Homo sapiens: one gene and its partner. The gene in region 2 interacts genetically with the main gene of each other region. Each region holds a gene or a part of one and is shown on either strand. Other genes may lie near its edges.

Evidence for each region. Genes that interact genetically often act in the same process or in processes that back each other up.
Region 1: of SNCA (region 2) and PRKN, changing one suppresses a phenotype caused by changing the other (phenotypic suppression), as found in Homo sapiens cells (2 studies listed by BioGRID).

Annotation. Positions count from the first base shown.
Region 1 is NC_000006.12:161,346,909-161,352,796, reverse strand, and holds the end of PRKN (E3 ubiquitin-protein ligase parkin), read left to right. Parts: intron 1-2,585; coding exon 2,586-2,698; 3' UTR 2,699-5,380; downstream 5,381-5,888. UniProt on the Homo sapiens protein: Functions within a multiprotein E3 ubiquitin ligase complex, catalyzing the covalent attachment of ubiquitin moieties onto substrate proteins. Substrates include SYT11 and VDAC1.
Region 2 is NC_000004.12:89,723,563-89,729,163, forward strand, and holds the end of SNCA (alpha-synuclein), read right to left. Parts: intron 3,099-5,601; coding exon 3,066-3,098; 3' UTR 537-3,065; downstream 1-536. UniProt on the Homo sapiens protein: Neuronal protein that plays several roles in synaptic activity such as regulation of synaptic vesicle trafficking and subsequent neurotransmitter release.

The sequences.
Region 1 (5,888 bases), on a different chromosome or scaffold from region 2:
AAAAATAAAATAAAATAAAATAAAATATATATATATATATACACACACACACACACACACACACACACACTCTTCATACATATTTGTGTTTATATATGCTTATATATATTAAATATCACAATAGGAAAGTTTCTTACCCTTTCATTTAGAATTGCTTTAATAGTTCATTAAGTTTTAATGTATTGCTCAATAATTTTGATTGAATATATTTTACGATACATGATATAATAATGATATATTTATGATATGATAAAATATTTATGATATTTTAGAGAAACAAGTGGTTTTATAATGTCACACCATATAACATATTATTTACATCATAAATATACAACCATGCAATATGTGCTGAAAATGGCACAAACCTAAGTGGAAAGTATGAAGATAAAAGTGTTGTAAGTTTTCTCCTTTATTTTCCACAGATCTGTAATTTATGATCTTTAAAACAAGCCAGAAAGGATTAGGAAAACAGGAGATTTTGCATGTCGGCAAGTTATCTTAAAACAAATGCCTATTCCTATATATTCATAAATATTTTAAATTAGTGAAAGTTCTCATGCCAGGTTTCTAATAATAAAAGTGAGACAGCACCGAACCAATTACTTGGAAAATTTGGCAGGAAAAATCAATTAACAAGATAATTGGTAAGAGTGAGTAATGGAGCACCTTCAACGCTAGGTGGGATTCAAGCAAAGAAACTGCGTTTGCCGGGGTTTTCCAGGAAATTTGGACAGAAACAGTTCTCTGTACATCCTCATACAAATCACTTCCTCCTCCCTTCAGTTCCCCCACAGCGACTGAAGCAGGGCTGTGTGCACTCCAGAAACTCATGGAGTCTATGTTTAACAAGTGAGGGAGGTGAATAATTCCAAAATAAGTTCCAAGATAAGGGACTTTTCCTCTTATGCTGAAAATAACCTGTTCTGTGAATGACAGGACATTGGAATCACACAGACCTTGGTGAGATCATTGTCTTCACCATTTAAAAGTGCTTCACCTTGGGGAAATTCTATAGCAGAGTGATGCTCTTATCTCAAAGTGCTTTGGGAAGCAAATGAGATAATATACATAGAACACCTAGCATTATTAATTACTTCCTTTCTATCCCTCTCATCTTAATTAAAATTTTGGATAGCATTAAGGAACATATTCCCTATTAAAAATAATATGCTGGCTGGGTGCGGTAGCTCACGCCTGTAATCCCAGCACTTTGGGAGGCCGAGGCGGGAGGATGACTTGAGGTCAGGAGTTTGAGACCAGCCTGGCCAACATGGCAAAACCCTGTCTCTACGAAAAATTCAAAAATTAGCTGGGCATGTTGGTGGGCGCCTGTAATCCCAGCTACTCGGGAGGCTGAGGCCAGAGAATCACTTGAACCTGGGAGGTGGGGGTTGCAGTGAGCCAAGATCTCGCCACTGCACTCCAGCCTGGACGACAAGAGCAAAACTCCATCTCAAAAAAAAAAATAGAAATAATAATAATTACAATATGCTATCCCAGTTCCTGTTTTATGAATTTGGCCAAGCCAAGTAAGTGGCACTATAGAAAGAGCAAAAATAAATCAAAATATATTTAAATTATTATACATTATATTAGGTTATATCATCAAATTTTATCAATATATTTAAATATAAATATATTTATATATATTTTAAATATAAATATATAAAAATATATTTATATATATTTTAAATATAAATATATAAAAATATATTTATATATATTTTAAATATAAATATATAAAATATATTTATATATATTTTAAATATAAATATATAAAATATATTTATATATATTTTAAATATAAATATATAAAATATATTTATATATATTTTAAATATAAATATATAAAATATATTTATATATATTTTAAATATAAATATATAAAATATATTTATATATATTTTAAATATAAATATATAAAAATATATATATTTTAAATATAAATATATAAAAATATATATATTTTAAATATAAATATATAAAAATATATATATTTTAAATATAAATATATAAAAATATATATATTTTAAATATAAATATATAAAAATATATATATTTTAAATATAAATATATAAAAATATATATATTTTAAATATAAATATATAAAAATATATATATTTTAAATATAAATATATAAAAATATATATATTTTAAATATAAATATATAAAAATATATATATTTTAAATATAAATATATAAAAATATATTTATATATTTTAAATATAAATATATTAATATTTGAATATATTTAAATGAGGAATTGACCCCTATCTATGAAACATGAAGTGTTTGTCTCTAAATCCCCTTTCAGGAGAATAAAGTCAGATTTACAAATAAAATTTGTTCCCGACAAAAGTGACATGCTTCAATTTCATTCATTTCTTAATGAATATCATCACTTTAGAGCTGCCCTATTGTGCTTTATGAAGTTTTTCCCCTCAGTTAAGTTTCTCTCTGCCCTTGTATTGCTTGTGATTATTCGCTCAGAAAGTGATGTCTAGGCTAGCGTGCTGGTTTGGGAATGCGTGTTTTCCAGGTACTTGCTGCGAACCCACCACACCTTTGTTTTCTGCCCCCAACAGGAGGCTGCATGCACATGAAGTGTCCGCAGCCCCAGTGCAGGCTCGAGTGGTGCTGGAACTGTGGCTGCGAGTGGAACCGCGTCTGCATGGGGGACCACTGGTTCGACGTGTAGCCAGGGCGGCCGGGCGCCCCATCGCCACATCCTGGGGGAGCATACCCAGTGTCTACCTTCATTTTCTAATTCTCTTTTCAAACACACACACACACGCGCGCGCGCGCACACACACTCTTCAAGTTTTTTTCAAAGTCCAACTACAGCCAAATTGCAGAAGAAACTCCTGGATCCCTTTCACTATGTCCATGAAAAACAGCAGAGTAAAATTACAGAAGAAGCTCCTGAATCCCTTTCAGTTTGTCCACACAAGACAGCAGAGCCATCTGCGACACCACCAACAGGCGTTCTCAGCCTCCGGATGACACAAATACCAGAGCACAGATTCAAGTGCAATCCATGTATCTGTATGGGTCATTCTCACCTGAATTCGAGACAGGCAGAATCAGTAGCTGGAGAGAGAGTTCTCACATTTAATATCCTGCCTTTTACCTTCAGTAAACACCATGAAGATGCCATTGACAAGGTGTTTCTCTGTAAAATGAACTGCAGTGGGTTCTCCAAACTAGATTCATGGCTTTAACAGTAATGTTCTTATTTAAATTTTCAGAAAGCATCTATTCCCAAAGAACCCCAGGCAATAGTCAAAAACATTTGTTTATCCTTAAGAATTCCATCTATATAAATCGCATTAATGAAATACCAACTATGCGTAAATCAACTTGTCACAAAGTGAGAAATTATGAAAGTTAATTTGAATGTTGAATGTTTGAATTACAGGGAAGAAATCAAGTTAATGTACTTTCATTCCCTTTCATGATTTGCAACTTTAGAAAGAAATTGTTTTTCTGAAAGTATCACCAAAAAATCTATAGTTTGATTCTGAGTATTCATTTTGCAACTTGGAGATTTTGCTAATACATTTGGCTCCACTGTAAATTTAATAGATAAAGTGCCTATAAAGGAAACACGTTTAGAAATGATTTCAAAATGATATTCAATCTTAACAAAAGTGAACATTATTAAATCAGAATCTTTAAAGAGGAGCCTTTCCAGAACTACCAAAATGAAGACACGCCCGACTCTCTCCATCAGAAGGGTTTATACCCCTTTGGCACACCCTCTCTGTCCAATCTGCAAGTCCCAGGGAGCTCTGCATACCAGGGGTTCCCCAGGAGAGACCTTCTCTTAGGACAGTAAACTCACTAGAATATTCCTTATGTTGACATGGATTGGATTTCAGTTCAATCAAACTTTCAGCTTTTTTTTCAGCCATTCACAACACAATCAAAAGATTAACAACACTGCATGCGGCAAACCGCATGCTCTTACCCACACTACGCAGAAGAGAAAGTACAACCACTATCTTTTGTTCTACCTGTATTGTCTGACTTCTCAGGAAGATCGTGAACATAACTGAGGGCATGAGTCTCACTAGCACATGGAGGCCCTTTTGGATTTAGAGACTGTAAATTATTAAATCGGCAACAGGGCTTCTCTTTTTAGATGTAGCACTGAAATCCTTGCTGGAGGGAAGAGAGGGGATGAACTCAAGTTTTCCACATCCTGGGACACCTGTCCCTCTTTTCCTAACTGCCTAAGATAACCCATTTCTTCCAACCATCTGAGGACAGTCCCGTCGTCTCAGAGGCCCTGCACCGGGGAGAGACTGGGCTCTGCAGCAGCCACATCAGCATTCACAGCTTCATGTGGCTTCACTGTCTGAAAATCTACCGACTCCAACATGGCCCCACGGTGACAACAGACCTGTGACAGGAAGCCCAAAGCTCACATAGAAATGGTGGACAGATCAAAGTCTCTATAGTAAGGGAAAAAAAGAGAGGTGGCAGGCATGAGCCCCCTGCACCCAGTGGCTCGTGTCCATACTGAGTCCAGACCCTGATCAAGGCCTGACTTAGTGTCACTGGCAGTCCCACTAAATTACACTTCCTTACACTGGCCCGATGCGACAAATCAGGTGGCTCCCTTCTGTCACGTGGAGCACACAGTGTTTTCCATCATCCATAGCTTTCTTCCTGATGGTGTTTGCATTATTGCGCCTTCCCAATCTGCATGCTGCGTTGGGCTTGCGGTGCCTGAACAAGGTTTGCTCCCATGAGCTCAGGCACCCTAGGATCCCCTGTTAGACTATTAGGCTGTCCAGCATGGTCTCCTTTCCCTTCTTGGTGGTGGTCTTTTCCCTTTCCAGAATAGAACAGTGATTCTTAAAATAAGTTAGAGCAGGCCGGGCGCGGTGGCTCATGCCTGTAATCCCAGCACTTTGGGAGGCCGAGGTGGGTGGATCACGAGGTCAGGAGTTCAAGACCAGCCTGGCCAAGATGATGAAACCCCGTCTCTATTAAAAATACAAAAATTAGCTGGGCGTGGTGGCAGGCACCTGTAATCCCAGCTTCCTGGGAGGCTGAGGCAGGAGAATCACTTGAACCCGGGGGGCAGAGGTTGCAGTGAGCCGAGATCACGCCACTGAACTCCAGCCTGGGCAACAGAGTGAGACTCTGTCTCAAAAAAAAAAAAAAAACAAAAACAAAAAAGCAAGATCATCCACTACACATGAACATGAATCACAGTATTATTTGCACAGGAAGGGTGTAACAAAATATGAATGTATCAAAAAATAGAAATAAAGTCTTTGCAGAAAAAGTCTGTTTTTCTCTGAAGTGTGTTGAGATTATCTGACAACTCTAAGATTGTACTTAAATTGTCAATAAAGCATCAAAAGAGCTTCTGAGTCTGTCTTTGAAGATACATTTTCAATCAATGTGAAGGGTGACGGAGGGAATCACAGGCTGTATTACTCCATGGGCCTCACTTGTGGCCTGGAGGAATTACCTGGTGATGAAATAGCCATTCAGTGACCTGGAGGAATTACCTGGTGATGAAATAGCCATTCTCATATCAACTCCAAGCTCCAGATTACCGCTGGCTGTTTCTCTTTGTTAAATAAGAGTAGTTTTTTAAGGCTATCAAAATTTGAAAGGGTTCCAAAAAGCAAACCCTCATTCATAAAAATCTAAAAGTTACTTTCCTGCCTTACTAGCAAACTTTTCTAATAAAAGTGTTTAAAAGAGAAGTTTGCATTGGAAAAGACTATCTATAAGGATTTTTTCTCATGTCATTCTAGAAAATTTCAGTGACTTTGCATTGCTGTCAATGTGGGTGTGTTGACGCTGCATTTTCAAAGAACTGCTTTAGTGGCCATGCATTGTTTATTTCACAATGAGCCCATGGT
Region 2 (5,601 bases):
GAAAACAGTTTGCTTACTAGATTACCAGTTTGTTATAAAAGGATACAACTCAGGAACAGCCAGATGGAAGAGATGCACAGGGAAAGGTATGGGGGAGGCGTGGGGAGCTTGCATGCCTTCTCTGGACACACCACAATTCCCAGCACCTCTGCATGTTCACCTATTTCAAAGCACTCTGAATCCTGTCTTTTAGGGATTTTTATGGAGTCTTCATCATGGAAGCATTGTTGCTTATTAACTCAATCTCCAGCTCCTCTTCTCTCCCGTCCCCAGAAGATGTGAATGGGGCCAAAAGCTTCAAGCTTCTTATCATGGCTTGACCTTTCTGGTGACCAGCCCCCATCCAGGAACCCAGCAAGAGTCACTTCATTAGAAGAGAAGATGCTACTCTCACCCAGGGACTAAGGAGCTCTGTCAGAAAGCAGAGTCAAAGACCAAATATTAGAACAAAAGATGACCCTAGCACCCCTACTACTCAGGAAATTACAAGGGTTTTAGGAGCTCTTTGTAAGAACTGGAGGCAGAAACCAAATACATATTTTCATATATGTATATATTTATTATGTCACAAATAGCTACATACTGGATAAGCCAGAAAGATGAGGAAACATGTTTGCATCTCACACTAGTGCAGAGATTCTGAAAAAGACCCCACTTGGAATACCAAACCACACATTAGATTGTTCTGTTCCCAATTGTGTGCCAAAGTGCACTCTGAACTGTTTTGGTAAAGCCGACCGTGGAGTCATATGAGGCTGAATAACTTGGGAGAATGTAAGTCTGCAAAATAAACCTAGGACTGGATTGATCCTCAGGCCACTTGGCAGGTGAATGTCTCGGGAGTGAATATGAGACAAGCTTCCTGAAAAGGCTTATATGACTTAAAGAACTTTTTGTTTAAGTGTTTGGTCCCAAATAAACTATTAAGATATATAAAGTAATTCACTGCTCAAAAATTACCGTCAGATAAATATTAAGGGAAGAAACACTTTAAAGGAGAATTTGTATCCACATAAATCCTTAAATTCATGGTCACAACTTTCCTAATCTCAAATTGTTCTAGGTCACTGCTATCAGTCTAGTTCTGTCCTCTATTTCTTAATTTAATACCAATACTTTTAAATTTTTAAAATATGCTGCTTTAGGTAGATTTAAAATATATCCTAACCGCCACTTTCTAACCTTCCTGAAATATACTGTTCAATAACAAATCCTTTCCTTGCTTAAACATAACTTAAATAAAACAAGAAACTTACCATTTCTCTCTAGTGTAAGATGACACATGCAGCTTAGCACTCTGTAGTAGTCTCTCTTCAATTAGGTAAAAAAGGAAGTTTCTATGGTAACCATCCTTATAGTCACTCATTCCTCCTTCCTTCCTCACCAGCGCCCAATATATATCACATTACTCATGAATACATATAAACTGCTAGCATGTCTAGAATATTCTGTCTTGAAATTATACTTTCTACTAGTGACTTTTAGAAATGACTATGCCCCAGAATAATTAAAAAGAGAAACCAAATAATTTTTAAATTAATTTATACAGAGTTTTTCACCATCAAGTTTATTTTCAGCACCCATGGGGAGTTAATAGATCTTCCCTGAAAGAGAAAAACCTTTCCTAAGGAAAAATCCTAGAATTCATATATTTGGCAACATTTAAAGGAGGCCATGAAATTTTTATCAGTCTAGAGAATTGATCTCCTTTAAGGTGACTCTGGTAGTTCCAACGATGTTTAAAGGCATTTCCTGTAAAAAAAAAAAAAAAAAGAGAGCGAGAGAAAAAGAGAGAGAGAGAGAGAGAATTTCTGATGATTAAAAAAAAAAAGTGAGGAATGCTGAGTTAAACAAAGTTAACCACATTCTCTCAGAGCCTTGAATGTGCTAATATGTGCTAATGTGTCTTATGGCTCTCTAAGGAGGGTGTAGTCAAAATCATCTTCTACACTGCTTAGTTCCCGGGAACCCACTTTTTTTTTTTTTTTATTCATGGTCGAATATTATTTATTGTCAGAAAGGTACAGCATTCACACCAATATCAGACAAAATAGATTTTAACTAAAAAATTATTTCGAGACAAAAATAACAATATATGTTAATAAAAGGCTCAATTAAAAATGTATAACAATTATAAACACATACACATCAAACAACAGTTCCCCAAAATACGTAAAGCAAACATTGACAGGATTGAAGGGAGAAATAGACCACTCTACAATAGTAGTTGGGGTCTTCAACACCCCACTTTCAATAATTAATCACAGCCACTTAAGGAACCAGTGCATACCAAAACACACTTCTGGCAGTGTTGCTTCAGGGAATTCCGAGTGTAGGGTTAATGTTCCATTTTCTCTACCTCTTCTAAAATTCCTCCTTCTTCAAATGGCTATTAATAACTTTATATTTTTGTCCTTTGTGTCAGTTCTTAATTCATGTTGCTTATAAGCATGATTTTTATTATTAAAGTGAGATGGGATAAAAATAAAATATTTTTGCAATGAGATAACGTTTTATTTTAATTCTCACCATTTATATACAAACACAAGTGAATAAAACACATCGCAAAATGGTAAAATTTCATATTTAGTATTTATAGGTGCATAGTTTCATGCTCACATATTTTTAAGTATTATATATATTAACAAATTTCACAATACGTCATTATTCTTAGACAGTATCATTAAAAGACACCTAAAAATCTTATAATATATGATAGCAAATCACTAACAACTTCTGAACAACAGCAACAAAAAAATAGTGAGGATTTAGAAATAAGTGGTAGTCACTTAGGTGTTTTTAATTTGTTTTAACATCGTAGATTGAAGCCACAAAATCCACAGCACACAAAGACCCTGCTACCATGTATTCACTTCAGTGAAAGGGAAGCACCGAAATGCTGAGTGGGGGCAGGTACAGATACTTCAATCACTGCTGATGGAAGACTTCGAGATACACTGTAAAAACTTTGAGAAATGTCATGACTGGGCACATTGGAACTGAGCACTTGTACAGGATGGAACATCTGTCAGCAGATCTCAAGAAACTGGGAGCAAAGATATTTCTTAGGCTTCAGGTTCGTAGTCTTGATACCCTTCCTAATATTAGAAAAATCAAAAAGACAGCACACACTGTTAGTATAAGTTTCAATTACGCATCAGCACTGACAGCCAATGAGATAGGAAATGGCTCCCCACTTACACTAAAATTTACAATCAATGTTTTTGCAAATATTCTGCAGCAAATATTATCTTATTTTTAATAGTTGTGTCTTTCTTGTCTGATATAAAAGTGAATTACAGTAGTAGTCAGAGTTAAAATATCTAGGTTCTGATCCGGATGCACCATTTAATGATCATATACCTAGTTTGGTAGGACAAATAAGTTGGACTGTCTGGTTCTCAGTTTCTTCACCTGTAAAATGTGAGAACAAAATCAAGCTGTCTATAAAGCCTTTTCCAGACTAAGATGCTCTAATTCTCAGAAGGAAATTAAGATGTTTGAAGGCAAGATACATTTTCCCTACTTTCACTCTCCCAGTTGAAAATTTCGTCTTCATCTATGGCTTCAATTATTACTTGTATTTCAAACCTCAAGCTCTCCATACAGTATCTGGATAGCATCCACAACACAAATATTAATGGATTTAATTAAAGGGATCAGATTATTCCTCCTAAAGAGCAACTCTAATAATATCAGGATTCTGCTTAAAAACAAACAAATAAGCATAACTTCAATAACTCAAGTTGTTTTCTGAATAGAATACAAGCTGAAATGACAAGATTATCCTAATACTCTATAACTTGTCTTTGACCCATAGCTGCAAATTCAATCTATCACCATTTTCCTTGTTCCTAAGCTTGAGTCATAATTATTCACTGTTCTCAGACATATCCATTTGCATGCTCAGACATACATGCCTTTGCTTCTGATATTCCCTTGTGCCAGAATGTCCTCTGTTTGTTTTGACCTACTATATCTCTTACCTTTTCCCACCCAGATCAACATTACCTCCTCAATAAAACTTCTCCTGATTGATTGAAACAGATCTTTAAAATGTTTTACTTTTTAGTATGTCTTATATATTTTTGCTCCTGTGATGCCTGGTACATCGAAGACAATCAATTATGTTTGTTAAAGGAATCATAATGAAGAAATGAATGAATGAATTTCTATTTTTTTTCATCAAACCTACCAGACTGTAAACTCCTTATGTCCTGGTAATGTCAATTACTCTATAGTTTTCCATTGTGTTTAGTACTGTGTCTTGCATAAAAGACCCCAAAATATTGGAAATTCTTATTAGGCAAACAAACAATTTAATCTCAATTTCTATAAGTTGAATTATTATCAATATGCCTTTCGTGTGTCTGTGTGAGACAGTCTTGCTCTGTTACCAAGATTGGAGTGCAGGGGTGCCATCTCAGCTCACTGCAACCTCTGCCTCCTGGGTTCAAGTGACTCTCATGCCTCAGCCTCCCAAGTAGCTGGAACCATAGGCGTGTACCACCATGCCCGGCTAATTTTTGTATTTTTAGTAGAGATGGGGTTTCACCATGTTGGCCAGACTGGTCTCCAACTCCTGGCCTCAAGTAACCTGGCCACTTTGGCTCACAAAGTGCGGGATTACAGGTGTGAACTGCTGTGCCCATCCTCGACATGCCTTTTAATAATGCCGTGAGGAATAATACATAACCAAACTACAACATACTTGAACTCAATTTTTAATGGAGCCATTATATAGTTTCTTTTCTTGTGATATCTTCATTTGGTTTTGATTATCAGGGTAATATTGGTCTCACAAAATTAGTTGGGAAATGTCTCCTCTTCTGTTTTGTAAGAGATATTAATTGGTGTTAACTAATTAGTATTAATTCCTCTTTAAATGTTTGGTAGAATTTACCAGTGATGCCATCTCGGCCTGGGATTTTCTTTGCAGGTAGGTTTTTTTTTTTATTACTAATTTAATCTATTCGCTGTGTTACAAATCTATTCAGATTTACTGTTTCTTCTTGGGCCAGTTTTATTCATCTAACAGTATTTTCTAATTTCCCTTTTGATACATTTTCTATTAAAGATACTTTCATTTTCAATCAAAATAAAATTAACAATCATATTGTGTTGTTTAAAACATTATACTGGAATATATCAATTGTCGCAAATCATGCATTTATCTTTTTATTCTATAACTTGTGTGGGTAACTTTTATTTTACTATGCGTCATCCCATTGGACATGTATGGCAAAAAATAATAACCTTCCTTTGGCATTCCATTGATTTCCCTAACTTTCCATTTAGAAATTTATTTTAGAATGTAAAGTTTCTAAAAATATATTCTCTAATGCAGGGGTTAGTAAACTTTTCCTGTAAAGGGTCAAGTAGTAAGTATATTAAGCTATGTGGACTACATATGATTTCTTTTACATCCTTTCTTCCTCTTCTTCATCTTCCTCCTCCTCTTTTTTTTTAAGGACCCTTTAAAAATGTAAAAACTATTCTTAACTTGCAAGTTGTCCACGTAATGAGCATGTAGAGAGCAAATGATTCTCACTAAGCACTAATGAAAGAGAAATGTGACAATGACAGGTTTTTGGTACTGTC